Homo sapiens: one gene and its partners. The protein of the gene in region 1 purifies or fractionates together with the protein of each later gene. This does not show direct contact. Each region holds a gene or a part of one and is shown in the gene's direction. Other genes may lie near its edges. The genes, in order: SLC6A13, SPTLC2, RAB5B, RNF121, GNPTAB, POMK and SNX25.

What was found.
Region 2: the proteins of SLC6A13 (region 1) and SPTLC2 purify together in Homo sapiens (affinity purification with mass spectrometry; one large-scale study listed by BioGRID and IntAct). This does not show direct contact.
Region 3: the proteins of SLC6A13 (region 1) and RAB5B purify together in Homo sapiens (affinity purification with mass spectrometry; one large-scale study listed by BioGRID and IntAct). This does not show direct contact.
Region 4: the proteins of SLC6A13 (region 1) and RNF121 purify together in Homo sapiens (affinity purification with mass spectrometry; one large-scale study listed by BioGRID and IntAct). This does not show direct contact.
Region 5: the proteins of SLC6A13 (region 1) and GNPTAB purify together in Homo sapiens (affinity purification with mass spectrometry; one large-scale study listed by BioGRID and IntAct). This does not show direct contact.
Region 6: the proteins of SLC6A13 (region 1) and POMK purify together in Homo sapiens (affinity purification with mass spectrometry; one large-scale study listed by BioGRID and IntAct). This does not show direct contact.
Region 7: the proteins of SLC6A13 (region 1) and SNX25 purify together in Homo sapiens (affinity purification with mass spectrometry; one large-scale study listed by BioGRID and IntAct). This does not show direct contact.

The regions. Positions count from the first base shown.
Region 1 is NC_000012.12:242,044-245,875, reverse strand, and holds part of SLC6A13 (sodium- and chloride-dependent GABA transporter 2), read left to right. Parts: intron 1-2,062; coding exon 2,063-2,197; intron 2,198-3,121; coding exon 3,122-3,262; intron 3,263-3,832. UniProt on the Homo sapiens protein: Mediates sodium- and chloride-dependent transport of gamma-aminobutyric acid (GABA). Mediates transport of beta-alanine. Can also mediate transport of taurine and hypotaurine.
Region 2 is NC_000014.9:77,519,124-77,522,955, reverse strand, and holds part of SPTLC2 (serine palmitoyltransferase 2), read left to right. Parts: intron 1-1,374; coding exon 1,375-1,510; intron 1,511-3,832. UniProt on the Homo sapiens protein: Component of the serine palmitoyltransferase multisubunit enzyme (SPT) that catalyzes the initial and rate-limiting step in sphingolipid biosynthesis by condensing L-serine and activated acyl-CoA (most commonly palmitoyl-CoA) to form long-chain bases.
Region 3 is NC_000012.12:55,972,664-55,977,201, forward strand, and holds the start of RAB5B (ras-related protein Rab-5B), read left to right. Parts: upstream 1-1,414; 5' UTR 1,415-1,476; exon of another isoform or gene 1,477-1,628; coding exon of another isoform or gene 1,629-1,676; intron 1,677-4,538. UniProt on the Homo sapiens protein: The small GTPases Rab are key regulators of intracellular membrane trafficking, from the formation of transport vesicles to their fusion with membranes.
Region 4 is NC_000011.10:71,927,595-71,932,034, forward strand, and holds the start of RNF121 (E3 ubiquitin ligase RNF121), read left to right. Parts: upstream 1-1,451; 5' UTR 1,452-1,467; coding exon 1,468-1,530; intron 1,531-4,440. UniProt on the Homo sapiens protein: E3 ubiquitin ligase which accepts ubiquitin and transfers it to substrates thereby promoting their degradation by the endoplasmic reticulum-associated degradation (ERAD) pathway which is a pathway involved in ubiquitin-dependent degradation of misfolded endoplasmic reticulum proteins.
Region 5 is NC_000012.12:101,764,865-101,768,696, reverse strand, and holds part of GNPTAB (N-acetylglucosamine-1-phosphotransferase subunits alpha/beta precursor), read left to right. Parts: intron 1-536; coding exon 537-660; intron 661-2,402; coding exon 2,403-2,606; intron 2,607-3,392; coding exon 3,393-3,832. UniProt on the Homo sapiens protein: Catalyzes the formation of mannose 6-phosphate (M6P) markers on high mannose type oligosaccharides in the Golgi apparatus.
Region 6 is NC_000008.11:43,103,239-43,107,070, forward strand, and holds part of POMK (protein O-mannose kinase), read left to right. Parts: intron 1-289; 5' UTR 290-310; coding exon 311-592; intron 593-3,832. UniProt on the Homo sapiens protein: Protein O-mannose kinase that specifically mediates phosphorylation at the 6-position of an O-mannose of the trisaccharide (N-acetylgalactosamine (GalNAc)-beta-1,3-N-acetylglucosamine (GlcNAc)-beta-1,4-mannose) to generate phosphorylated O-mannosyl trisaccharide (N-acetylgalactosamine-beta-1,3-N-acetylglucosamine-beta-1,4-(phosphate-6-)mannose).
Region 7 is NC_000004.12:185,208,289-185,212,643, forward strand, and holds the start of SNX25 (sorting nexin-25), read left to right. Parts: upstream 1-1,309; 5' UTR 1,310-1,538; coding exon 1,539-1,967; intron 1,968-4,355. UniProt on the Homo sapiens protein: May be involved in several stages of intracellular trafficking.

The DNA.
Region 1 (3,832 bases):
AAAGTGCTGGGATTACAGGCTTGAGCCACCGCGCCCAGCTAATTTTTGTATTTTTACTAGAGATGGGGTTTCACCATGTTGGCCAGGATGGTCTCGATCTCTTGACCTCGTGATCTGCCTGCCTTGGCCTCCCAGAGTGCTGGGATTACAGGCGTAATCCACCACACCCTGCCTTTTCTTTCTTTCTTTTTTTTTTGCGACAGAGTCCCACTCTGTTGCCCAGGCTGGAGTGCAGTGGCACGATCTCGGCTCACTGCAACCTCTGCCTCCCAGGTTCAAGCAATTCTCCTGCCTCAGCCTCCCAAGTAGCTGGAGCTACAGGTGCGTGCCACCATGCCAGGCTAATTTTTGTATTTTTAGTAGAGACAGGATTTCACTATATTGGCCAGGCTGGTCTTGAACTCCTGACTTGGTGATCTGTCCACCTCAGCCTCCCGAAGTGCTGGGATTACAGACGTGAGCCACTGCACCCGGCCAATTTCGTATTTCTGTAAATATTCTTTAGCTCTGTTCTGGGATCAGTGAAGTTACTTGCTCTTTTTATATCTTGCTTTTAAGATTGGTTAGGTAGCAATAGAAGTGTGCTCGGTCTAGGGATAATTATTCCCCGTTACTGAGGAAATGCCCTTCTGCGTACTCTGCCTAATGCCTGGTGAATCTTGAGATTATTTACTCTGGCAGTGTGTGAGCACCATTACTTTTAATCATTTTGAATGGTTCTTTCCCTCACCTCAGTTTTCTCACACATATGCACTGACTAGTACTCAGTTGGAAGCTTGAGGGGGACCCTCTGCAGATTCTCCTGTCTGTGCAGTTCTGTCTTCTCTGGTACTCTGTGTCCTATGAACTGTGCTGTCCACTTTGCCAGCAGATGACAGGTCCATGGTAGGGAAAATACCAGTATATCTGGCATCAGTAGTCTTGTCTCCGCCAATGCTTATAAAAACAGAAGGAGACAGATTACTAGCTTAGTTCATTTTGTGTTGCTACAACAGAACACCTGAGATGGGTAATTTATAAGGAACAGATATTTATTTATTATAGTTTTGGAGGTTGGGAAGTCCAGGGCAAGCAGTCCACCTCTGGTGAGGGCCTTCTTCTTTGTGTCAGCCCATGGCAGAAGGCAGAAAGGCAAGAGAATATTCATATAAAAGACAGAGAGCCAAATACACTTTTTTTTTTTGGACAGGGTCTTGCTCTGTCACCCAGGTTGGAGGGAGGGCAGTGGCACAATCACAGCTCACTGCAGCCTCGAACTCCCAGGTTTAATCAATCCTCCCACCTCAGCCTCCCGAGTAGCTAGGATTACAGGCACACACAGCCATGCCCAGATAATTTTTTGTATTTCTTTTAGAGACAGAGTTTTCCCATGTTGCCCAGGCTGGTCTTGAAGTCCTGGGCTCAAGCGATCCTCCCACCTCAGCCTCCCAAAGTGCTGGGATTACAGGCGTGAGCCACTGTGCCTGGCCCAAACTCACTTTTATAACAAACACAGTCTCACAGTAATAACATTAATCCATTCATGAGGGCAGAGCCCTCATGACTTACATCTTATTAGGCTCCACGTCCCAACACTGTTGCATAGGGAATTAAGTTTCCAACCACGAACTTTAGGGGATACATTCAAACCATAACAATGACTGAAAGGGCATCTGATTTCAGCTTACTAAAAGACTACCTGACGTTAAGAGCAATGCTTTCTTTGAAAAGAATTATAGACTGTGGGCTGTGCCAATGCTCCTAGACATCCATTATTTAATAAGCTCCTTGTTATTGCCACAAGTTATGTGTTAAGCAGTAATTGTTCAGTGGGGAACAAACTTTAATAGGTATAGACTGAAACTGCAGTGAAAAAAGGCAAGAGGCTGTGTAGATCTTAGATAATGGGGTGACTCTTGATCTCTGCTATGTTCCAAACATCTAGACAGCTGTCTCCTGCAGTTTTGCATGTTCTCTGCCTCCGAGATTCTGACTGGCAGTATGGGTTGGTAATGGGAGGAGGTGAATGCAGACCATGAGGAGAATAGTCCCAGGAAATGAACAGCCTGTTTTCTAACCACAGGTGCCTTCTTCATCCCCTACCTCGTCTTCCTCTTTACCTGTGGCATTCCTGTCTTCCTTCTGGAGACAGCACTAGGCCAGTACACTAGCCAGGGAGGCGTCACAGCCTGGAGGAAGATCTGCCCCATCTTTGAGGGTGAGTAGCTCTGTACCTGACTCCAAAGCGTCTTCATTCGTGGTTATAAACCTTGTTTGGAATGACTTGAGTGATTAGTAGCAGTTCTGAGGTTAAGATAAGATCCCGAGTCTCTATGCTAAACCCTTGGTTTGTGGGCTGCATACTGAGCTAGTCAGCTGATCTATCAGAGAATGGGCAAGAAACAGCAGTGAGGATGGGGCAGAGGCTTTAGGTTAGGTAAGTAGAGTGCAAAGCCACTTTAGCCATATGTTTTAAACACATAACAATGTTGTTGTATTTTAAGACATATTTAAATCAATTATAAACATTTTAAAAGAGAACTTTAAATGAGAAAAAATTATTTCATTCATAGTTCTATCTTGGCCGGGCGTGGTGGCCCATGCCTGTAATCCCAGCACTTTGGGAGGCCGAGGCAGGTGGATCACCTGAGGTCAGGAGTTCGAGACCAGCCTGGCCAACATGGTGAAACTAAAATACAAAATACAAAAAATACAAAAAATTAGCCAGGCATGGTGGTGGGCACCGGTAATCCTAGCTACTCAGGAGGCTGAGGCAGGAGAATCTCTTGAACCTGGGAGGCAGAGGTTGCAGCGAGCCGAGATTGCACCACTGCACTCCAGCCTGGGTGACAAGAGCAAAACTCCATCTCAAAAAAAAAAAAAAGTTCTATCTTGACACAAGTATTTAAAATTTACAGTATTTAATTTCATTATTTCTCCATATATAGGATTTTCTTTACGTTTTTATTTTGAAATAATTATAGATCCACAGGGAGTTACAAAAATAGCAGTTTCCCTCAATGGTAAATTGAACTCCCAGCCTCAGACAATCCTCTCACCTCAGCGTCCCGCATAGCTGAAATGACAGGTGCACGCCACCGCTGTCCACCGTTCCTAGCCCAATTCTGCAGTTTCCCCGCAGGCATTGGCTATGCCTCCCAGATGATCGTCATCCTCCTCAACGTCTACTACATCATTGTGTTGGCCTGGGCCCTGTTCTACCTCTTCAGCAGCTTCACCATCGACCTGCCCTGGGGCGGCTGCTACCATGAGTGGAACACAGGTATGGTCCTCACCCAAGGGTCCACTTCCTCCTCTCGTTCTGCCACATTAACCGGAATTGGGCTTGTCACTATATCCCCGCTTAACACGGACACACCAGAAATCACCCAAGTCGACCATGGAGAGCTTATGTCAAGAATAAGATCAAGAATTCACCAGCGTCACAGGCAAATGTCAGGAACTTTTTAAAGAAAAAATTAACATATTCAATGAGAACTGACCACTTTTATGTTGTTTAGCCATTTGCTTAAATCAATTTGAAATATGGTTAGTTTGATATATGGATATATGTTTTGTTCATTCATTTGTTTCGCGTATCTTCTCTCTGGTACGTTTTAGGTCTTTCAAACTTGCAATTCATCTGGACTTGCTTGTCAGGGGTGGCAGAGGCGGGAGAAAATCCACGTATAAGTGGACCCGCACAGTTCAGATCCATGTTGCTCAAGGGTCCACTGTGGTTTATAATAGCAGTTACAGTCACGTGTCGCTTAATGACAAGGGTACACTCTGAGAAACGCGTTGTTGGCAATTTCGTCCTTGGATGAACACAGCACAGAGTGCACACCCACAT
Region 2 (3,832 bases), on another chromosome or scaffold:
GTGGCCAACTTATATAGAGTAGCTTCCCATGAATGATGGATATGTTAGTATTCTGATTCTAAGGACATTGTTAGCTATCTGTATGTCTGGTTAATTTGTCATAAGAACTTATGTCATGTATCATGCTTGGACTTTTAAAAATATGAACTTGCTGATTTTATAATCTATATATGAAAATTACTGCAGCCTTTTCTATTCATGAGTATTCATGGTTGAGAAGATTCTAAAACAGTTCTTAGCCCTTTCCAAGCAGATCTTTTAAATTTATTGCTTTGCTCTGTATAACAGAACAGTTGTTTGGATATCTTTTCAAAGATTGACTTACCATAATGTCAAAACCTGCCCAAATATTTAGTCAGTTGGCAATTGCAGACAGAAACGTGTGTTTTAATCTATTTGTGTTTTAGGGAAGATGAGCAAAATAGGATTAAAGATACGATTTTATACTATTACAGATATGTTACTGTTGTCTGGTAAGAATTTTAAGGAAACAGGCTAGGCGCGGTGGCTCATGTCTGTAATCCCAGCACTTTGGGAGGCCAAGGTGGGTAGATCACTTGAGGTTAGGTGTTCGAGACCAGCCTGGCCAACATGGCGAAACCCTGTCTCTACTAAAAATACAAAAGTTAGCTGGGCGTGGTGATGTGCACCCGTAACCCCAGCTATCAGGAAGCTGAGACAGGAGAATCGCTTGAACCCGGGAAGCAGAGATTGCAGTGAGCCAAGATCGTGCCGTTGCACTCCAGCCTGGGCGACAGAGTGAGACACCGTCTCAAAAAAAAAAGAAAGAAAAAGAAAAAAAGAATTGTAAGGAAACAACAAAATGAAACTCAGAAGATGAAAATTTGGGGGTCTAAAGGCTTCATCTCTGGTCTTATGTGTAAAATTTATTTGCAGCACAGTTAATTAGAATGAATCTTAAAGTTAGAAGATGTAAATTCTAGTTGCAGCTATGCCACTTGCTACTTGTAATGTGCCACACACTATTGTGCAACTGTAGGCATGTCACTACCTTGGTGAGAGTCTCCCCACCTATAATATGAAGATAATCATAAATATCCTGCCTACTGTCAAGGGATTTGTGGAGTGCTCAGTGAGGGGGTATGGCTGAAATTCTTTGAGGATGCTAACGCTCCATTAAACGTTTTTTACATTATTATAACTTCTGCTGTTAACAGGTAGAATGACAGAATACAAAATGAGACATTTTACATTTATATTCCATATGGTTTACTCTGTAAAATATTTTATGGTGAAATGGAAAAAAACGAAACAGAACTGATTAGATAGAATGGAGATAGAGGAGATTTACTGTCTTTTTTCCATTCCTTTTTACTTAGGATTATTTTGTTTTCTCTCACCGTGACTTTCCAGGTAAAGAGTGTGTACAACAGTTAGCTGAAAACACCAGGTATTTCAGGAGACGCCTGAAAGAGATGGGCTTCATCATCTATGGAAATGAAGACTCTCCAGTAGTGCCTTTGATGCTCTACATGCCTGCCAAAATTGGGTACGTTTTGTTGCAGATCACAGACCAGTCTGTCCTTATCCTTATCTGTGATGTGAGACCAGGGCTTATGTATTTTGTTAGGGAAAATGGTCTTGTCCTTACTGTGTTAACCTTCATTTGGTACATATGCCATAGATCAAATAGTGGATTCCAAATTGTAAAGTATGTTAATTTGTTCTTCTTTCATTAAACATTTGAGTTTCATGTACTCTCTAGGGGCCTGGGATAGATCAGTGAATAAAATACAAACATCTCTGTCCTTGTGGAGCTTACAGTCTAGTAGGGGGCAACAGTCAGACAGACATAATAAACAAATGAACTGTGTACGATGTTAGAAGGTGTCAAGTGCTATGGAAAAAAATAGAGCAGGACCTATATGGGGAGTTGAGAGTGCCCTGTGGGCGGGCCGATAACACTATTAAATAGGGTGGTCAGGGTAAGGAAGCCTCCTTGGGAAGGAAAATGACATCTGAGCAAAGATTTGAAGGAGCTGACAGCCACTGGAGAAAGAAGCATCTGTGCAAAGGCCACAGTACAGAAGCGAGCTTGCTTAGCTGACGGAAGAGTAGCAAAGAGGTCCCTGGAATTGGAGCACCGTGCCCCAGGGCGAGCAGTGGGCCATGAGGTCAGAGAGGTTTTATCAGAGTGTGTTATTGGATACTTACCAGGTGTGCAGATTACACCAGCTTCTTTGGTTTGTATGAGGCATACATAATGGAAAGCCCTGCCCTAGGATAGCTTTCAATGTATTTGAGAAGTCCAGATGTATAATGAAACCAGAAGACATTTGAAAAGCAAATGAACAGTAATTATACTGAACAAATTTTATTATATGCAAAGTGGCCCTGAAGATGTAGAATAAAGGAGTGACCTGCTTAGTATAGGCTCAGTAAGAAAGGCACATCTTGTTGGATGGGTGAGTTTTGAGCTGGATCTTAAAGCATTTCTCCAGTTTGATTGAACTCATTGAAGGAGCAATTTTTGTAAATTTTTGAATCCCCAGTGTCCACCACAGTCTCCGACACTCAGTAAATGTTTACTGAAATGAATATGGGAGAGGAAATTAAATCAGGGAACCTGGAAGTAATGTGATTCAAAGAGAATGAAAGGGAAGTAAGGAAAAGGTGCTCCCTGAGAGAAAAAGAAGAATTTGGGTTTCAACATGAAGTCATATGGGCAGTTGGTATTATGGCTTCAGAGGGGATGGGGAAGGATTTTCTTCATTCTTCTTTAAGTGGAATTCTCATAAACAAACATGAAGAGTTATCAGATCCAAAGGACTCAGTCTAGAGCTCTCTTTAAAGAAGGCTGTGTCTCCTTTATTCTACATAGGTGCAACTGACTGTGTACACTTTAATTAGGAAAGATTTAGAGAAGGTACAGGACCCAAAAGGGCACAAAAAAGCAATAACTACTAAATATAAGGAAAACAACTCTGTATACAGCATGTATAAAGAAAAGCAAGGTATATTTGGGGAGATAAAAGTTGTAAAGGCATTAAGATGTGTGTTTGTTGAGAAAAAATAAATTTGTGCATTTAAGAAGTTAAAAAAAAAAGATTTAGAGAAGGTAAAGAATTAGAATAAGGCACTAGACAGTTTGGGAGCATGTGCTGAAGATACAGGGCACCCAGGTTCATGCTGACACAAAGGAGGTATGTTGAGGAAGATGTACTGGTACTACAGAGAGTGGGAAAAGGCTGTGAAAAGACTGGCATTAATGTAATGCCAAATGTGCAGGATCTGTATAGCCCAGGCTGGAGTGCAATGGCGTGATCTCGGCTTACTGCAACCTCCACCTCCCAGGTTCAAGCAAATCTTGTGCTTCCGCCTCCCCAGTAGCTGGGATTACAGATGTGTGCCACCACACCTGGCTAATTTTTGTATTTTTTAGTGGAGATGGGGTCTAACCATGTTGGCCAGGCTGGTCTCCAACTCCTGACCTCAGGTGATCTGCCCGCCTCGGCCTCCCAAAGTGCTGGGATTACAGGCACGAGCCACTGGCCCGGCCACATTTTTTTATTCTCAAACAAATGCTGTAAACAGCTTAAAGGAAAAGTTGAAACATAAGGGAGGTCAATAAGAGGAAAAGACAAAAAGCAACATAATTTGGGCCAGGCACAGTGGCTCACACCTGTAATCCCACTTTGGGAGGCCGAGGTGGGTGGATCACAAGGTCAGGAGATCGAGACCATCCTGGCCAACATGGTGAAACCCCGTCTCTACTAAAAATACGAAAATCATCTGGGTGTGGTGGTGCACACCTGTAATCCCAGCTGCTCGGGAGGCTGAGGCAGGAGAATTGCTAGAATCTGGGAGGTGG
Region 3 (4,538 bases), about 56 Mb from region 1:
AAAAAAAAAGCATTTTTTTTTTATGATTTGTCTCTGTCACCCTTGTCCTTGAGTGCTCTTGCTATTAACGTTATTTGTAATTTAGTTTGTAGCTCATTAAAAAAATGTGCCTAGTTTTATAGTTCATCTCTTTCCTCCTCTTATTTACTGAAAGAATGGTGGGAGACAGAATATGAATGTGTGTATGTGATCATTGATTTCAGACCCCTTTTCCTAATCTCTCTGTGCATGGCTGCCCACCCCACCCCATTTTGGCTAGTGCTGACGGTGAACAAAGTGGTTATTATCATCCCTATTTATGGCTGGGGAAACTGAAGCCTATATACTTCCTACTTCACTTTCTCCACACACCAGCAAACCTCCTTTCCCCCAGCCAACATACCACACACACACCACACCACACACACATCACATACACACACCACACACACATCATATACACACATATACCACACACACCACGTATACATATACCAAATACACACACACCACATACACACCATATATGCACACACACCCCATACATACACACACCCATGCACATACATAGCGGCAGGAAGAGGGCTCCCGGGGAATTTGCCTTTCGACACTGCATTTCCCAGTAAGCCCGCCGTTTTTCCTTTCTGTTTCATATCACAGACAGAAAAGTTTTCCAAAGATTCTTTTATTTACATTTACATACGATTCTGAAAAAGCGTCTCCAAGCTACCACTTCTTGTAGTTGCCATTGTCTCATTCCACCAAAAAACATCTCAGACCGCCCGCGGCCACCCCAAATACGCCTGTCCACTGAAGCCTCACTAAAAGGAGGAAGCGCTGATGTCAGGGTTACTTAAATTCCCAGGCTCCGGATCCCTAGAAGAGGTATTTCCCTTTACGCCCGCGAATTTGTCATAGAAGGCAGGGCACTAGAGCCAGCCCCAGCCAAGTCCAGGGGGAGGGGCGAAGGTCAGTAGCGGCCTTCCTAAGGCTTCCTTCAACCCCTCCTTGCCTGCCAGTCAAGTACCGTATTTTCGCAGTACTGGTTAAAGTTTCACTTTGACCCGCCTCCATCACTCACCTGATTAGATGTTTATGAGTCAAAAGGCGGGGTCATGGGGTGTCGAGATTTTATTGGTGGATACATACGCCTGTCGGCAGTGTACCGCCCCCTGTCTTCAGGAGCTTGCTCTTTAATGGCTCCTTACCTCGTCCATCTTCGAGGTTTCTCCCTCGCTATTGGCTTGTGGCCCCGCCTGTCGCGTCCCTTGCTCGTACTTGTTGGTGACAGCGCCCAAAGAGACTCGCCTTTCTCCAGAGGATTGGTGGATGAGTGCACATATAGCCCACCCTCGAAGGTAGGCGGGTAATCGAGCTATTGGCTGGAGCCCCGCCCCAGGGCGAGGAGGAGAAGGAGGGGCAGGAGGGTTTGGTTGAGCTGCAGCTGTTTGTCTGTTCGACACAGGCTTGGGGCCGACGGGGGAGACGGAGCCCCAGGTACCGAGCTGATGGAGCCCAAAGGGCAGGGGCGGAAGCGCCCGGGAGATGAGAGCAGCCTGGCCTGAGAGCGGAGGCGGGTCTGGTCCTAAGCGAGGGGTTAGAGTGGCCCACCGGAGAGGGGAGAAGGGGGCCGGGCCCCGGCAGGCCTAATGGGGGTCGCTGAGGAGGGGACTGGGCGGCCTGGGACCCCGAAGTTGGTGAGTCGGGAAGGCGGCTGGGCTGTGGCGGCGGCCAGGCCGAGGGCCGGGGGCTGGAGGCCTGGAGCTTGAGTGAGGGCAGGGGCAGGCCTCATTAAGCAGCGCTGAAGAGGGAGGAGCTGGGGAAAGGAACAGGGCAGCGGGTGAGGTAAGCCCATTTGCCGGGAGGTGAGGAGGGTCAGACCTGTCGCCCGAGCCCCGGGGGTGACTGGGGCTGGGTCCCTGCAGAGAGGTTCATTGGAAGGGCCTGAGAAGGGTTCTTAGTTGGGTAAGAAGCGTTCTTTTCAGGGAAAGTGCCTATTGTAAAAAGAACTGAGGGTGCTATGGTGTTGAGCTGAGAGAGATTTGGGTTCAGTGAGGGAGAACTGGGGAAAATGAAGAAGGCTGTATTAATCTAGAAGACTAAGGTAGTTGAAGTAATGGAAGCAGGGCCTGGTATCAGTTATGGGAACTTCTGGGAATGCTGAAGGGTGGGCTGGGGGCTCTGGGTCTTGGGAGTACACACTCTTTTGTTCCCTTTAGTGTTTAGATGTGGTAATTTGAAGCTTTTTAAAACTCCCAGGGTAGGGATGAAGATCAAAGTAATTTTTTTTTTTCCATGACTGTTGGCTGCTCCAAACTCAGCCCCTACACTTTCTGTTGGCCTCATAGCTGGTCTATACTGCAGTCTGTTTCTTAACTTACTGTTTCATGTCCTATGAAAGAGCTAAGAAGTTGGATTGGGGGCATGTTTTGTCCACTTCTTTCCCACTTAATAATGTGGTCTATAGCAAATACCATGTCTCCTAGAACTGAGAATCTATTTCATATCTATTTCATTATCTACATGGGAAAGGGGCTTAGAGATCCTCAGCCATCAGGAGATCTTCTGATCATAGTTGGTGAAACTTTTGTGGGACTTAGACTTGACTTGGGTATTTCCCAGGCAGGTAATGGAGTTAACAGGTCCGAAACTATGCGGTGATATCACTGAGGAAGAGATTTGGGGAAGAGTGAGAAATTCCATTTCAAAAGCTTGGCATCACCCCTTGTTCTTTGTCTACTTCAAAAGCCCAGATTTCTGTGCTGTTAGAAAGTTGGGTCAAACTATGAAGTATCTGGGGAAGATGGTGAGTAGAGAAAAAGATACAGAGGTGCAGTAGCCCACGCCTGTAATCCCAGCACTTTGGGAGGCTGAGACAGGAGGATCACTTGAGCCCGGGAGTTCGAGGGTGCAGTGAGCCATGATCTTCCCACTGCACTCCAGCCTGGGCAACAGAATGAGACCCTGTCTCCAAAAAAAAAAAAGACAAAGATTGCCAAAGCAGAGGAGTGGAGTACCCTCCTCCCCACATATTTTTAATGGTCTGCTAGCCTTCTTAGTCCCTCATAGATTGGAGCCTATTGGATTTTCCCTTACTGTACTTCCTCCTTTTCTGCGTCTCTACCAATATATTTTATCACTACATTTCTTTTTTTTTTTTTTTTTTTTTTGAGACGGAGTCTCACTGCAACCTCCACCTCCCAGGTTCAAGAGATTCTCCTGCCTCAGCCTCCCAAGTAGCTGGGACTACAGGCGTGCGCCACCACGCCCAGCTAATTTTTGTATTTTTAGTAGAGACAGGGTTTTACCATGTTGGCCAGGATGGTCTCAATCTCTTGACCTCATGATCCGCCCACCTCGGCCTCCCAAAGTGCTGGGATTACAGGCGTGAGCCACCACACCCGGCCATCACTACATTTCTTAATTACAAAAGTTAATATGTACATATTTTAAAATATGGAAGGTGTACAGCAGTTTAAGAAGTATAAATCCTCCCACACATACCTTATTCATATTTCATTTAGGAAGGTCAAGGATCAGAGACAGCAAATCAGACTAATCTTGCTTTGCTTTGGGGGATGTGTCACAAAAGGCAATTGTGTTTTCATGTTCTCATCAAACTCTAGTCTTATTCTTTCTACAGTTTTCCCTTCTGGGATGATACTCTGTTATTTATTGTGTTCCTTTCACAGTTCATTTTGTCTTCTACCAAGTCCGACAAGCAGAGGGCTGTACTGTGTGTTATTCACCTTGAGTACACACAAACACACACACCCCAAGTTGTGTGCTGGGTGTCCTAGGAAGTGCCCAAAGAGATGGAACAAAACTTTATGGGGAGAAAGGATCATTTTGGTTGGGATAATTGTTGGCATCTCTGCTAAAGAAAGGAATTTCAGACCCTTATCTCAAATTCATGGTCTCTGGATGTTCATGGTCTCTGCATGTTCACATTACTTGACTATCCCTTTCTTATCCATGATGATGATGGTTCTCCTAAGAGGCCCCTGTATTTGTCTTTCTTTTCTTTTCTTCTATTTTTAGAGACAGGGTCTTGCTTTGTCACTTAGGCTGGAGTACAGTGTGTGTCTTTCTGTAGGGATCTGAGAAGCTCCAAGCTTATCTGGATTTGAAATCGGTTTTCCTCTAAATCTCAGAGTCAGAGTACAGCTGGGGCATTTCATACTACCACCTTATTAATTGAATTTGTCCTTACTAGCTTTAAAAGCCCTCTGTTGTACCCAGCCTTTGTACAGCGCCCATTGGAAACCTCGGTTTTTTCCCCCAAGGAACTTTTCTCACCTGCAAGCCAGTCCTAGAGACAGTTGTGTAGGAGTATGTGTGTGTGTTTTTAGACGGAGTTTCACTTTTGTCACCCAGGCTGGAGTGCAGTGGCATGATCTCGGCTCACTGCAACGTCTGCCTCCTAGGTTCACGCGATTCTCCTGCCTCAGCCTCCAGAGTAGCTGGGATTACAGGCGTGCACCACCACGACCAGCTAATTTTTGTATTATTAGTAGAGACGGGATTTGACCATGTTGGCCAGGCTGGACTCTAACTCC
Region 4 (4,440 bases), on another chromosome or scaffold:
ATAATTATTAAAAATGGACTGGGAGAACACAAGCTAATTCTAATTCATAATAGTTGCTTCTGGAGAGGATGAGAGGGTAATAGGCTTGAGAGTAGAAAAAACAGGTAAGTTTAACTTTTATTGTATTATCTAGCTTTTAAAAAATAAGCAAATAAATCATAATGCCAGTAGTCAATTTAGGGTGATGGGTGTACAGTATTTACAATATTCTCCGTATTAAGTGTCACAAAATAAAAATGATTATTTTTAAGTAAATGGGATGCCTGTGGATGATGTAGATAATTCCCTGTAATTTTCTGTTGGTCCCAATGTAAAGCTGACTTTTCTAGACGTTCTGTGGGCTCACAGGCCATCCTAGTTCCATTCACCAGACAGATCCAGGCGGACGCCCAGAGGCGTGTGAGCTGGGGCTACAGGCTTGCAAGGTATCGAGTTCACCGGCTGCTGAAAAATCAGTTATGAAGGTATACGTAGGGGTGGGACAGTGAATGGTGTATAAAAAGGAGGGTAAGGCAGAAGCTGGGGCCGCAGGATGTGGGTTAGAAAAGTGTGCCGAGGTGTGTGAACTGGCATGACAGCCTAAGTAAGACGCGGAATGTGGGTGCCCTGGAGGTCCCGCAAGGCTCTTCAGCTCTCAGTTTCGGGAGCTCAAGCCGCACCGCTGCTTTCACAGCTCATCGGGAACAGGCTGCTCAGTTCATTTCCTTGATGGCCACCCTCCTCCCTCTCGGCCACTCCCCTCCCCATCAACAAATCCCAACGCCCCTCACCCGGGACCGTGGACCTCGAGGAGCCACCGTTGCCTCGGATCTCGGACCACCAAACCTATTCTCCCGCCAATTCGGCCTTCTGACCTTCGCCTTCTGACCCCGAGAGCTACTCTTCCGTCTTCCGTAGCACAGGAATGCGTTCTGGGGCTTCAAGAAGCTGCTGTTTTTGAAAATGAGTCCTACCGAGGCAAGATGGCAGGTGCTGCAGCCAGGAAAATACATTTCCGTGTGTTTTAATATTTATTTTCACTCACTACAACTCTTTCGTGGAGGGAGCGGAATTTAAACTTCCGGGTCAGCCTCAGTGCAGCTTGGGAAACGTAGTTCCTAGTCCCCACGTCTCGCTCCTTGGAGCCCAGACTGAGGGAGCGTCGCGAAAGTTGCCCGTTTTGGAACGCTCCCATTTGGCTCTCCAAAGGGAAGAATTGGTTAAATAGTTGCACTGAAAATAATGCGATTCAAATTTCTCATTTTCCAAGAACGCTCCCTTGCTGAAGCTTGCAAGGGCACGGTACTCCCCTCTCCTTGACCCTGAAACGTGCAGCAAGTAGATAACCTCCTGATCCCTGACAGTCTCCGCCTGTGTTGATGCCCCGCCCCCTCTGCTGGAGTCCGAGCCGCCGATTGGCTAGGAGCACTTGAGCAGCGGAAGCAGCTGGCTCGCGCGGGGACTGCGGTGAGGGGGCGAGCCGTGAAGATGGCGGCAGTGGTGGAGGTGGAGGTTGGAGGTGGTGCTGCTGGGGAACGGGAGCTGGATGAGGTAAGCGGAGTTGAGAGACGAGGAGAGACTCAACCTGAGACTGAGGGGAGGGGCAGTGAGGTATCGGGAGGTGGGGGTCTTAGGAGAGAAGGGAAAGATCCTGAGAGGGAAGGAGCTGACTAGGGGGCGGGTGCGTGGAGAGCGAAGTCAGAGGCACTCCTGACTTGGGGACTCCGAGGCGGCCTTGGGAGTAGAAGACTTGCATTAGCCTCAAGGGTGAAGATGGAGGACAGAGAGAGAGGTCGGAGGGGTGGGGGTGTTAAGATTTTGTGATTACTAGCTGGGTGTCTTAGGGTAGGACCGAAGGGCTAAGAGGTAGTTTGAGTTGGAGGGACGTGAATTTCTTCAGGGGAAGGCTGGGCTTCTACTGTGGGAGAGGACTCTGTCTAAGCCTAGGGTGGGGGTTGGGGACACAGACCGGGAAAGAGTGCTAATCCACTAGTAGTATAGCTTTGAGTTATCTTAAAGTTGGAACTGTTTTATTTATCGTTCCATTCTAAGACTTTGTATCTAATGCATGCTCAGTAAAGTTTTGGCCAACGAATGAAGGAACAAGTGGATGAATAAATGATTGTATGCCGGAATTCATGCATTTATTCACTTAATAAACATTATGACTTTTGCTCCGGGTTCTGGGCCAGGTGCTAGGGAGACAAGGGGCCCCTCCGTTGAAGAGCCCACAGTCTAGTGGTGGGAGACAGACAAGAAGACTAGTCATTGCATTAGAGATATAATGGTGGCACTGAGAAGTGTGCAACATTTCAGCTTGGGATAGGGAAGGCTTCCCGGAGTTGCTGAGTTTTAAACGATAAATAAGTGTCTCTCTCTTCTTCTGGATTTATGAGTTCCTTGAAGGTGAGCTCCTTGAGATTGTATGTTCCCTTTACCTATCTAATAGGCATTTAAAGACTGGTGTATTAAAATACCAGTGGTCCTTGAAGGAATCACTAGGAGGAAGGAGATGTTGAGTGTGAAAGGAATGAAGGGACAGGGCAGAGAAGCAGAGACAGAGGTGAAAAGATTCTGAAGCCATGGAGACATTGATAGCTAGTGGTGTTTGTGATCTTGCACATGCCAGCATATGGGCAAAGACATCACAGGAATAGGAGGAAGGGGATTGGTTGTCAGAGATAGAACCAGTGAGATCTCTGAGGGGTCAGAATCTTAGAGGCCCCTTGCTGTGTGTTGGGTGTGGGAAGAGTGGGGAGGATTGGGGATGATTGAAGATGAGGTTCAGAGAAAGGGAGAAGTGGACTTGGGAAGCAATAAGACTGTTGCCTGGTAGTGGGATGAGTTGGAGGAGTTGGATTACCTGATTGGGATCATTAAGGTGGGAGGAAGGGACTGAGAAATTGACAGGTGATCACAGCAGGGGGATTTTTAAAGAAGTGTTGTAGTCTTCTACCTCCCAATCACTAGAGACTACAGGTGTTTGGATACCAGTTGGTTGGTTAGGTGGAGTGGTTGTGGAAATGACCTCCAAGACCCCTTCTAGCTTTTACATTTCTGTGATTACAGTTGGCTGTGGTTCAGTGAGATATATTTGAAGACACTTTGGAAAGGGTAAATACTGTATTGAAGTTCTTATTTAAGGTTTGTTAGTCATGGGCTCTCCCTTGAGACAATTACGTATATCTCAAAGCTGTAGTTACATATGTCAGGGTTCATTGAGATAAACAGCAGAAGTTTTGGCAGAGGAGAAAATAACATTTTCTTTTTTTATTTGAGATGGAGTTTCGCTCTTATTGCCCAGGCTGGAGTGCAGTATTGCAATCTCAGCTCACCACAACCTCTGCCTTCTGGGTTCAAACAATTCTCCTGCCTCAGCCTCCTGAGTAGCTGGGATTACAGGCATGCACCACCACGCCCGGCTGATTTTTTGTATTTTTAGTAGAGACAGGGTTTTTCCATGTTGGTCAGGCTGGCCTCGAACTCCTGACCTCAGGTGAGCCGCCGATCTTGTCCTCCCAAATGTGCTGGGATTACAGGTGTGAGTCACCGCGCCCGGCTAAGAAAATAACATTTTCATTAAGACATGTTTGATTTTTGTTTCTTAGCTTTTCTTTATTGCTTGAAGGACTTGAGAGCGTCTAGTAGTATAATAGACTTTACAGAGTATCATGCATAGGAGTTAACTTTATATGAAACCACTAGCATTCATTCCAGGAACCTTGTTACTTGTTTCATTTCCTGAGAAAAGGTATAATCTGTTGTCTGGAAATTCCGTGTGGACTGGTTCTATCTTTTTTGTTGTTGTATGTTTGAGAAAGTAAGCTCTGAGAAGCAGAACAGTCATCCCTTCAAGCTCCAAAAATAACAGAGGTCTGGTCTGGCAGACCTTAGTTGGTATTCAGGTTTCTACTAATGTCTCCCCAGCTGTTTCTTTGCAGCCTTAGCTTGTGAAACAGCAGGTGAAATCCGTCTTTAATATGTAATTATGGGGTCTACTGTGTGTTATGCACTGATAATTCAAAGATGAGTAAGACAGGATCTTTACCAATTTACAGTCGAGTGAAGAGACATGCAAATAGCGTATTATAATACTAGATAATTGCTGTAATGGAGGCATGTAACAAATGCAGTGGGGCACAAGAGATCAAGCACTTGAGTCAGCTAGGGGGAGTCAGTAAAGTCTTTATGATAGAGATGGGTTTGAGCTGAAAAAGGTTGGGTTTACAAAAGAGCAGTGGTTTACATGTGGCATTAATATTGCCCCCTGTGTAGCACTTTCTGTTTTATTGATAGACTCTAATGTGGAGCCGAGATTATAATTGGGTAATGGGTAGCCTGGCTAAGATGGAGTTGGTGTACTTTTCTACTTCTTTGGAAAGAAGTTACACGCTGTGTATATTCAGGATATTATACCTATGTTTTCCAATATTAGATGCCATTAGCATGATACGTAGTCTG
Region 5 (3,832 bases), about 100 Mb from region 1:
TCACTAATTCTGAGAGCAGGTGAATGCACAGCTCAGAATGCTATGCCAGTTAATTTATCACAGGGCCTTAAGCTTGAAGAGAGAGGATATTGTCTCTCAGCCTTGAGACAAGATTATGCACAAATACACTAATGAGCTACTGATAGTTACAGAAAAGCAGTGACTGTGCATACTTCCCACCAGCTTTGACATGCTTTGGTACTTGCAGTCAAGTCTGGCATGGTGCTACTTTATTTCATAGTAGATTATCAAAGCATGTTATGAGAGACTAATCCATGAGTTGAATCCTTGTCTGCTTTCCTTGAGTAATGGAAAAAAAGTAAATACGCTCAGTAAGAACGGTCAACGCAGCAGGATCTAAACAATGACTGTAGGTACAGGCAAACTTAAAGCACTTGTGAGTGTGAACGCTGAGCCCTTTGAAAATTTTAATCTTTCTAGAGACTTAATTTCTTTTTATAAAGGGAATCTTAACTCAAGAATAAAATGTATCAGAAGCCAGAAGTCATTTTATTTTCTCTTTGGTTTTATCGTAGGTTTATTTGACATGGCCTGTGCCAAACTGTGCCGAGGGCTGCCCAGGTTCCTGGATTAAGGATGGCTATTGTGACAAGGCTTGTAATAATTCAGCCTGCGATTGGGATGGTGGGGATTGCTCTGGTAAGGATGTGTTAAACTGTAATTCGTTCATTTTTATGGAATATTTTCTTCTTAATCATTATTGAACATGTGCTATAGACTTAACCAAACATTCTTTATGTATTAATAAAGAATCAGTAATGCTGGGCATGGTGGCTCATGCTTATAATCCAGTGCTTTGCAAAGCTGAGCTGGGAGGAGTGCTTGAGGCCAGGAGTTCAAGACCAGCTTGGGCAACATAGTAAGACCCCATCTCTATCAAAAAAAATTAGCCAAGTGTGGTGGTGCAAACCTGTAGTCCTAGCTACTTGGGAGGCTAAGGCAAGAGGATCATTTGAGCCTAGGAGTTAGAGGCTGCTGTGAGCTGTGATTGCACCATTGTACTCTAACCTGGGCGGCAGAGTGACAGCCTCTCTCAAAACAAACAAATCAGTAATCAATGGACTCTTTGGAGGTGGTAATTAGTGCCCTCATGTGGCCCAGTTTATTCATTGTTGAGGGCATTGAACAAGAGAAAATACACTTGAAAATGTCTTCTTATTTAAAATATGAAAATCTGGAATACACTTATATAAATCCAAGAGCAAGAATCACTCTAACTGGTTCTTATAGGAGCTCACTGCTGGTAGCTTTCAGCAGCAGATTGTGATAGGTCACAGAATTACTAAAGAGTTGCAAAAGAAATAAGTATTTTCTCTCCTCAGCAGCTCTTCCCTCTCCCTCACATAGTTATATTTTGACTTGTTGATAATAGCAATTTGTTACATTTACTTACTACCTTTCAATTTATAAAGCATTAAATTTATAGAGCATTATTCATTATATTCACTTGAATTGTGTTTGTTACCTGAGAGAGAGAGAGAGTAAGTATGTACACAAATGTTATCATCCCCATTTCCATATGAAGAAATGGATTTGGAAATGTTTGAATATTGGAGAAAACAAAGCTTCAAGTTGTATTTCAGTCAGATATGTCAGATGCGCTTTAGCTGAGGAGAGAGAATACAGATGTGCAAAGTAGATCTGTGTAGACCAGAGAAGTCAGTCTCTACTGGAACATTAGCATTTGATAACAAGGGGTATCAAACATGTTACCCACGTTTGGACATGTTTTTGGCAGTTCTGATAGTCACAGTCTTTGGAATAATCTCTTCTTGTTTTCGTGCTCCTCCATTTCTGTCAGCACGTGCCCCTTGAGCAAATGTAAGCCCTGTACTTGTAGGTTGCACAGCTACAAAATGCCAGGGCCTGTTCATCACGCTTCTGTCAAGTGACTCCCTTTTACGTTTATTTTCTTCTTAAGGTATATGAGATCTTCTACTAAAGAATGAGGTGAACCTTTTCTGACTAAAACTTACACATCAACCTTGAAAACATCAATATGAAATAAGGAACTGTCTTTTTCGTTTTTTGTTTTTTGAGACGGAGTTTCACTCTTGTTGCCCAGGCTGGAGTGCAGTGGTGTAATCTTGGCTCAGTGCAACCTCCGCCTCCCGGGTTCAAGCAATTCTCCTGCCTCAGCCTCCCAAGTAGTTGGGATTACAGGCGCCCACCACCACGCCCAGCTAATTTTTGTGTTTTTAGCAGAGATGGGGTTTTACCATGTTGGCCAGGCTGGTCTCAAACTCCTGACCTCAGGTGATCCAGCCTCCTCTGCCTCCCAAAGTGTTGAGATTACAGGCGTCAGCCACCACACCCAGTCCAGAACTGTCTTTCAAAATTGTAATTACAGCAAGAATCCCTCTTCTTCCTCCGATCTACAGGAAACAGTGGAGGGAGTCGCTATATTGCAGGAGGTGGAGGTACTGGGAGTATTGGAGTTGGACAGCCCTGGCAGTTTGGTGGAGGAATAAACAGTGTCTCTTACTGTAATCAGGGATGTGCGAATTCCTGGCTCGCTGATAAGTTCTGTGACCAAGCATGCAATGTCTTGTCCTGTGGGTTTGATGCTGGCGACTGTGGGCAAGGTATGTTTACTGCCAAACAAATAAGAATGGGAGCATAAAACATCCTTGACAGGTAGAGAGAGTTTTGAATGGCTTTTGTTATTTAAAATAATGATTCTCTGTGTATCCCTTTACCAGCCTTGCATTCAAACTAGTTATGAAAGTAAGAGAACAACATAAATCACTGAAGAGGATCTTTTCCTGTTATTGTTGCAGTCTGGTGTTTTGTTTTGTTTTGTTTTGTTTGGACCAAGCAGATTTACCTTAGCTGAAAATATGTGGTGAAGTTTTAATTTGGAAACAAAAAAGGATATCAATAATTCATTAAATAAAGATGGTTCAAACACTGGATTTTGTTGATAGCGTATTAATGGAGTTTGTTTTGGCAGAAAGTTTTTTTCAAATGGATAAAAAGATGGAAATTGATTATTGTAATTTATTGTTAAGAACCATGCCATATCTCTATAGTGAGTCAGGATCACTATTTCATGGTAATTATTGTGACTGCCTCAGATAGTGAAATAAGCCCTATACCAGTAACTGTTGTATTAGGATATCTGATTATTTTGAAATTAAAGTCACTCTTAGAAAGTGAAAACTCAGTGCCTACTTCAGCAGCACATATACTAAAATTAGAACAGTTTAGGCATTAGCATGGCCCCTGCACAAGGACGACATGCAAATTCATGATGCATTCCCTATTATTTTTTTTAAAAGAAAGTGAAAACTCAGACTCAAAGAATTAAAGGAAAACAGAGGAAAAATGCCCAGTTAAAAAAAAAATCATGTTTCTGTTTTTTCCTCTAGATCATTTTCATGAATTGTATAAAGTGATCCTTCTCCCAAACCAGACTCACTATATTATTCCAAAAGGTGAATGCCTGCCTTATTTCAGCTTTGCAGAAGTAGCCAAAAGAGGAGTTGAAGGTGCCTATAGTGACAATCCAATAATTCGACATGCTTCTATTGCCAACAAGTGGAAAACCATCCACCTCATAATGCACAGTGGAATGAATGCCACCACAATACATTTTAATCTCACGTTTCAAAATACAAACGATGAAGAGTTCAAAATGCAGATAACAGTGGAGGTGGACACAAGGGAGGGACCAAAACTGAATTCTACAGCCCAGAAGGGTTACGAAAATTTAGTTAGTCCCATAACACTTCTTCCAGAGGCGGAAATCCTTTTTGAGGATATTCCCAAAGAAAAACGCTTCCCGAAGTTTAAGAGACATGATGTTAAC
Region 6 (3,832 bases), on another chromosome or scaffold:
TCTATTTAATGCATGCTACTGTGAGTCGGACAGAGTCAGACACAAACACCTCCCACCTAACCTAATCTAGAGGAACCCGCATTTTAGTTTGTAATAAAAAGTAATGATTATGGAAACAGCTAACATTGGGCATTTGGGATAAGCCTGGTGTTCGATACCTGCTTTAATCCCCACGGTAACGCTGCAGCTTACAGGACCCTTGAGTAGAAGAGGCATCAGAACACATTTTTGGAAATGAAAGGAAGTGAAAGCTGACTGTCATGACTTCTTGTTTCATTGTGTATTTTAGGAAATTGCAGAGGCCGTCAACATGGAAAAGCAGCCCCAGAACAGCAGGAGAGGCCTCGCCCCCCGAGAGGTGCCGCCAGCTGTTGGGCTGCTGCTGATCATGGCCCTGATGAATACTCTGCTCTACCTCTGCCTCGACCACTTCTTCATCGCTCCTCGACAATCCACTGTGGACCCCACACACTGTCCCTATGGTCACTTCAGGATAGGACAGATGAAAAACTGCTCACCTTGGCTGTCCTGCGAGGAGCTGAGAACAGAAGTGAGACAGCTGAAGCGTGTTGGGGAAGGAGCTGTAAAGAGAGTGAGTCCGGGTTCATTTGCGATTGCTGTCATCCTGTTATTTCGCTTAACACAGTGTCCTCCAGCTCCATCCATGCTGGCACGGATTACGGAATTTCATCCTTTGTTACTGCCAAAGTGTACTCCATTGCATATGTGCACCACATTTGCTTTGGTTGATTCTGTATCTTGGCAATTGTGAATAGTGCTGCAGTAGGCATAGGTTTCAGCCCTTAGGGAAGCAGTGTGGCATCCAGTGTTAGGAGCCCTGCTAGCTCTACGTTTTTATTGTTGAGCTCAATAATCTTACATCTGGCACTTTATCTTTTTTTTTTTGAGAGTCTCGCTCTGTCACCCAGGCTGGAGTGCAATGGCGCCATCTCGGTGCACTGCAATCTCCACCTCCTGGGTTCAAGTGATTCTCGTGACTCAGCCTCCCGAGTAGCTGGGACTATGGGCATATGCCACCACGCCTGGCTAATTTTTTAATTTTAGTAGAGATGGGGTTTCACCATGTTGGCCAGGCTGGTCTTGAACTCCTGACCTTAAGTGATCTACCTGCCTCGGCCTCCCAATCGGACTTTATCTTAATAAGTAATCCAAGGCAGGAAAAAAGTCAAATGCATAAAAGAGTGCCATAGTGATAGAAAACTAGAAACAAAACTTTTAGAATAGTTCATTAAATGATGGTCCATCCACTTGACGGAATATTCTGCAACTGTTGTGTAGTTAGGAACCCCAAGAGGCAACATGAATAAAACCTTATGATGATAAGTGAAGAAAACAAGATATAAAATTGTATAATTGACTTTTCAACTGTGAAATTACGTGTATATGTAGATAAATACAAAAATGGTCAGGCGCAGTGTCTTATACATGTAATCCCAGCACTTTGGGAGGCGGAGGTGGGCGGATTACTTAAGCACAGGAGTTCCAGACCAACCTGGGCAACATGGCAAAACCCAGTTTCTACAAAAATACAAAAATTAGCCTGGCATAATGGTGCGCACTACTTGGGAAGCTCAGGTGGGAGAATCTCTTGAGCCTGGGGAGTTTGAGGCTACAGTAAGCCATGATCTTGCCACTGCATTCCAGACTGGGTGACAGAGCAAGATGCTGTCTCCAAAGGAAAAAAAAAATATGAAAATGATAGAAATTGTGCTAGGGTGAAAGGGGGATTATGGGCAATTTCTTTTCCTGTTTTTCAAACTCTGTGATGGTATTATACTGATTTTTAACAATTTATTTTTAATTGGCATGTAATAATTATCCATATTTATGGGGTACACAGTGATGTTTCCATACCTACTTACAGTGTGTAGTTAGCGGATCAGGGCATATCTGCCATCTCAAACATGTATCACTTCTTTTGGTTGGGAACATTCAATATCTTCTCTTCTGGCTATTTGAGAGTGTATAATATATTGTTAATTATAGTCATCCTATGGTGCTATGAAACACTGGAACTTGCTTCTCTTATCTAGCTGTAATTTTGTATCCTTTAACAAATCTCTGCCTATCCTCGCCTTTGCTCTACCCTTCCCAGCCTCTAGAAAACTGTTAGGCTTTTTACTTCTTTGAGTAAGCTTTTTTAAACTTCTGCATATGAATGAGAACTTGTAGTGTTTAACTTTCTGTTCCTAGTTTATTTCACGTAACATAATGTCCTCCAGTTCCTTTCATGTTGCCATAAATGACAGATTTCCTTCTTTTTTATAGCTGAATAGTATTCTATTTTGTGTATATATACCACATTTTCTTTATCCATTCATCTGCTGAAGGACACTTAGGTTGATTCCATATCTTGGCTATTGTGAATAGTGCTGCAATAAACATCGGGATGCACATATCTCTTTTTTTGTTGTTGTTTTTTGAGACGGAGTTTCCCTCTTGTTGCCCAGGCTGGAGTGCAATGATGCAGTCTCGACTCACTACCACCTCCACTTCTGGGTTCAAGCAATTCTCCTGCCTCAGCCTCCTGAGTAGCTGGAGTTACAGGCATGTGCCACCATGCCCGGCTAATTTTATATTTTTAGTAGAGATGGGGTTTCTCCATGTTGGCCAGGCTGGTCTTGAACTCCTGACCTTGTGATCCACCCACCTTGGCCTCCCAAAGTGCTGGGATTACAGGCGTGAGCCACTTAGCCTGGCTGTGCATATCTCTTTGATATATTGATTTCCTTTCCTTTGGATATATACCCAGTAGTGGAATTGCTGGATCATATGTTAGTTCTGTTTGTAATTTTCTGCGGAACCTCCATACTGTTTTCCATAATGGCTGTACTAATTTACATTCTCACTAACAGAGTATAAGCGTTCCCATTTCTCTGCATCTTCACCAGCATTTGTTATTTTTTGTCTTTTTGATAATGGCCATCCTAACTGGGGTGAGATGGTATCTCATTGTGATTTTGGTTTGCATTTTCCTGATGATTAGTAACATTGAGCATTTTTTCACAAATTTATTGGCCATTTGTATGTCTTCTTTCGAGAATGTCAGTTTAGATCATTTGCCCATTTTTTGATCATATTGTTATTTTTTTCTGTTGAGATGTTTGAGTTCCTTGGATATTGATCCCTTGTTAGATGAATAGCTTGCAAATATTTTCTCCCATTATGTAGTTTGTCTCTTAACTCTATTTGTTTCCTTTGCTGGGAAGAAGGTTTTTGGTTTGTTATAATCCCATTGGTTTACTTTTGCTTTTTTTTTTTTTTTTTTTTGACTGAGTCTTGCTCTATCGCCCAGGCTGGAGTGCTGTGACATGATCTTGGCTCACCGCAACCTCCACCTCCCAGGTTCAAGAGATTCTCGTGCCTCAGCCTCCTGAGTAGCTGGGATTACAGGCGCCCACCACCATGCCTGTATTTTTAGTAAAAATGGGGTTTCTCCATGTTGGCCAGGCTGGTCTTGAACTCTTGACCTCAGGTGATCCGCCCTCCTCGACCTCCCAAAATGCTGGGATTACAGGCATGAGCCACTGGGCCCAGCCCTCAGTTATAATTTTGCAAAGGCGGTTTCAATCCCTCCCTTTGGGGTTTTGTAGCATCTTATTCTTAAGGTGTGGGCTATGAAGATGGAAAAAGGCCATTGATCACTCTAGCTTCTTCATGCTGACAGGGGGCATAGTTGGGGTCGGAGTTGACCCTAAGGTGAGAGGAGTAGAACTGCTTTGCAGCTGTCTGAGTATATTCATGCAGGCCGGGCTGTGGTTCCAAGGCTTTCGTGACAAAGGCAGTAGTATCTTTATAGTTTTAGTACAGC
Region 7 (4,355 bases), on another chromosome or scaffold:
TACAGGCGTGAGCCACCGTGCCCGCCCCTATTTTCTTAAAAAAGGAGGAGAAAGGAAACTGGTAACTTATTTTGATCATCCCCTTGGCATGGCAAAGTCACATCTAGCATGAGGCACTCTTCATTTCTGACTTAGAAGGTTTAAGAAAGAATGAAATGAGGCCGGGCGCGGTGGCTTACACCTATAATCCCAGCACTTTGGGAGGCTGAGGCAGGCGGATCACGAGGTCAGGAGATTGAGACCATCCTGGCTAATATGGTGAAACCCCGTCTCTACTAAAAATACAAAAATTTGCTAGGTGTGGTGGTGCGTGCCTGTAATCCCAGCTACTCGGGAGGCTGAGCCAGGAGAATGGCTTGAACCCAGGAAGCAGAGATTGCAGTGAGCCGAGATCGCCCCACTGCACTCCAGCCTGGGCAACAGAGACTCCGTCTCAAAAAAAAAGAAAAAAAGAAAGAAAGAAAGAATGAAATGCCCATGAATACCAATTGATACTAAAAGCAAAAGCTACATCTGCTTCTTTATTAGTCTTAGCAGTAATTGCCAGTGTTTAAGTAGCATATTGGCATCTACTTAGCAAGCGTTATCTGTATATTACTGGCTGGGACTATGACAGAAGAAAAGGCAAATATATACTCTAAAAATTATTTGGACCACGTTCCTTTGCGTGGCTGATAGCATTTGAACTGAATAGTTGGTAAAAAACAAAAAACAAAACAAAACAAAACAAAAACCAGAAGTGGAGCCAAAGTGATTATGGGCAGCTGCGTGCACCCTGTTGCACCAGGCCGACTTCTTTGGACCTTTCCATAGCTAGGAATTGCAGGCTTCACTTACTCCACCGCACGTGTCTGATTCCTTCCCTAAGGCGGCAGGGTGGGAAAGGGAAGGTCGTTAGAAACTGTGACAGGGAGTCTCGGGAACGGTTGCCTATTTAAATAGCGAGTGAAAACCAGGCAGAAATGTTTGCCGGCTGTAAGCAAAGCGAAGAGGTTACTCGTCAGTGATGAGCGGAGAGGGAGAATTACGGGATCACCTGAGCTCAGGAATTACCAGCGCCGCTGACACCTGCAGCAAAATTTTCCATGAACAGACGGCATCCTGTAGAGGAGGAGGGGAGCGTGGGAAAGAGAGGTGTGCACCGCGCTGGGTCGCGCCCTCTCCCCGTGGGGCCCCGGCCCGGACCCCGCCCCCGCGCTGTGGGTGGGCGCCTCCCGGCTGTCACTCAGCGGCCGCGGTGGCTCCGGGCCCCGCCCGACACGCACTTCAGGGCGGCCCCGCCCCGCCCGCGTCAGGCTGGCCAGGCTTCAGTCACAACACGGTGGGGCTCCCTGGCTGCGCCCGGCCCGGCAGCTACGGGCCCAGCGCCTGGTGGCGGCGCTGAGGGGTCGCCGAGAGGGGCCCGGCGGCGTCTGCGGGGGCCGCTCCCTCGGTGGGCCGCGGGCGAGGCATGAGCGCGGGCTCCCCCTGCCTCCGGAGCGCCGGCGGGGGACCGGGGGGCAGGAGATGTGCCTGTCCTTAGCGGCCCAGGAAGCAGCATGCACCCCGATGCGACCGACAGTGGCGGCGCCGGCCCCAGCCCCGCGCGGGCCGCAGGCGCCGGCGGCCGTCCTGTCTCGGGCTTCAGGGGCGAGCGGCGGCCGGAGTCCCCGGGGGACGCGGAGGCAGCAGCAGCGGCGGCGCCGGGGGCCCCGGGCGGCCGGAGCTGGTGGAAGCCCGTGGCGGTGGCCGCACTCGCCGCCGTGGCCCTCTCCTTCCTGGGGCCCGGCAGCGGGGAGGCGGCGGGGGCCGCGGGGCTGAGCTCCGTCCTGTTCAGGCTCAGCCTGTACCTGAGCTGCGCGGCGGCCGCCTTCCTGCTGGGGATCCTGTTTGCCCTCGTCTGCCGGAGCCCGCGCGCCCAGCCGCCCGACTTCGCCGCCGCCTGGAGCCGGCTGGCCGCGACCTCAGCCGCCCGCCGCCCGCCGGGGGTAAGTACCCGACTCCTGGCCGCCCAGCTCCGCCGGCCCTCCCCGCTTCCGGTGCCAGCTCCCGCGCCCCGAGCTCCGGGGGGCCGCGGCATGCCCTTGTCGAAGCGGGAAGCCGGGAGCCAGGGGGCTGGGCTGCGGGCCCGGCCGTGGACGCGAGCGTTCCCCGGCGCCCGCGCGCGGCGGGCTCCGGGCTCCGGGCTCCGCGCTCCGCGGTGCTGGAGGAGATGCGCGTTATTTACTGGGCTCTGTAGTCACTCGACAACCATCCTCAGTCACAACCCTAAGGGTGTCCCCAGACCTTCGGTGTCGCTTGCCGTGGGAGGGGAAGAAGGGAATCACAGCGTTCGCTACGTGCAGGCTCTGCGCACGGTCCTGGCGATCCGCTTGGTTCTTCTGGCCGTTCTCGGTGGGAGGCAACTTTATGACCGTTTGCCGATGAGGAAACTTGCTTCGGTCCCTGGCCCAGCGCCTCACCCCCAAGCCCGCGTACCCTTCCCACCACCCTATCCTGCCTTCCACCATGCGGATACGTATTATAGTTGTGCAGTCCCCGCTGGCTTCTGTGATTTGGAAGGGGGATGCCAGAAATCACTGGTTTGCAACAAAAGGAAAGCCATCCTCAGCGCGCTGTGGGACACTAGGGCGGGGGTTAGGGAATGTAGGAAAGAACAGTGTTTTAAATGAGCGCTTCTCTTCTTCAGTGCCAAACCCACTGCCCCATCTTTCTTCCACATTCCTTCTCATAATCCTTTAAAGGGAACTTTATTCTATCCCAGCTTAACACTCACTGCTTGACTGAGTGATACCATCATTCTAATGAAATTGCCCAAGCGCTTTGGGGTAAGATAAATGGCAGTGGCTCAACTTCATAAGAATATTTGTTAATGATCATTTGTCCCCAGGGTTTGTATTTGCTTATCACATGACCTGCTCACTCCTTTATTTTAAAAGAAAGCACCACACTTCACCAAACTACTCTGAGTGTGTTAGTTCAGAATGCAGCGCTGAGATAATGGCGGAAGGCATTAGTAGGTAACAGACATTTCGCTCAGTAGGCTGATAAACAAGGCAGTATATTAAGGAGCAGGCAACTCCTGTTTTTAGAAGTGGTCTCAAAAATTAGTAAAGTTGGTTTCTCTTACAAAATCTCCACTTAGCCATCCGTTTTTCATATCTCATTTAGCAGGAGTTGCGGAGCAGATATGTCTCTCCTCTTTTTTTCTACCATGGCAAGTAAGGACCCTGAGATTTTACTAGTTTGTTTGTTGATCAATAAAATATGTCTTAGTTCTTGAGTACTGTAAGATGTTATAATTCATTCGGTAAATATTTATTGAGCATCTTGTGTGAGCCAGGTACTGTTTTGGAAGCTGAGTTTGAATCAACAGGACACATAAATATCCTGCTCTCTGGAGATCTTATGGGGGAGCAGGCAATAAATAAATACTGTGGGATAGTGATAAATGCTTTTGAAACAGTGATTAAGAGGTAAGAGATGAAGAGGGACTAGTAGGTGAGGGAAGGAAGTTTAGAGGGTTAGGTCAAGATCAAAGTCCTGGTATTGCAGACCATCTCCCAGGGCATTGAAAGCCTCCTGTTGTGGGTTAGCACTCTGTTTCCTGGAAAATGCATTCCCGCAAATCTCCCAGCTCACTGGCACCTCTGGGTAGGTAAAACGTGGATTATCATCTAGAAAGATTGTTTAGTAGAGGAGTTGGAGAAAATAGTATTTTAAAGGTGACAGAGAAAATGAAGCAGCATGTATAAATCTCTCATGAATACTACCCGAAGATTTCAGGTAATAGAAGAGGGGAAGTATAATCTAAGGAAAATGAATATTGGTAATTATTTTTGTCCTTGAATTCCTAAAATAGCCTTAAATAAGAAATTAAGTGCATTAGGGGCTGGGCACAGGTTTCACCATGTTGCCTAGGCTGGTCTTGAACTCCTGAGCTCAAATGATCCGCCCTCCTCAGCCTCGGAAAGTGTTAGGATTACAGGCGTGAGCCACTGTGCCTGGCCTAACCCTGCCTCTTAAAAAAAAAAAAATTTTTTTTTAAATTTTTTAAGTGCATTAGGAAATTACATTCTAAGTTATATATTGCTTAGAACTGAAATACATGTCATTCACATAAAATTCTATTTTCTTTGTAGTACTGGTACTGTTTACTCAAGCCTCTAGTGCTGTATTTCCAATAATTTGTGTGATGTGTGTGTGTGTGTGTGTGTGTGTGTGTTTTTTTTTTTTTTTGCTTTGAGACAGGGTCTGCTCTGTCGTGCAAGCCACCACGCCTGGCTAAGTTTTTGTAGAGACAGGGTCCTCAAGTGATCCTCCTGCCTCAGCCTCCCAAAGGGCTAGAATTATCGGCGTGAGCCACCGTGCCTGGC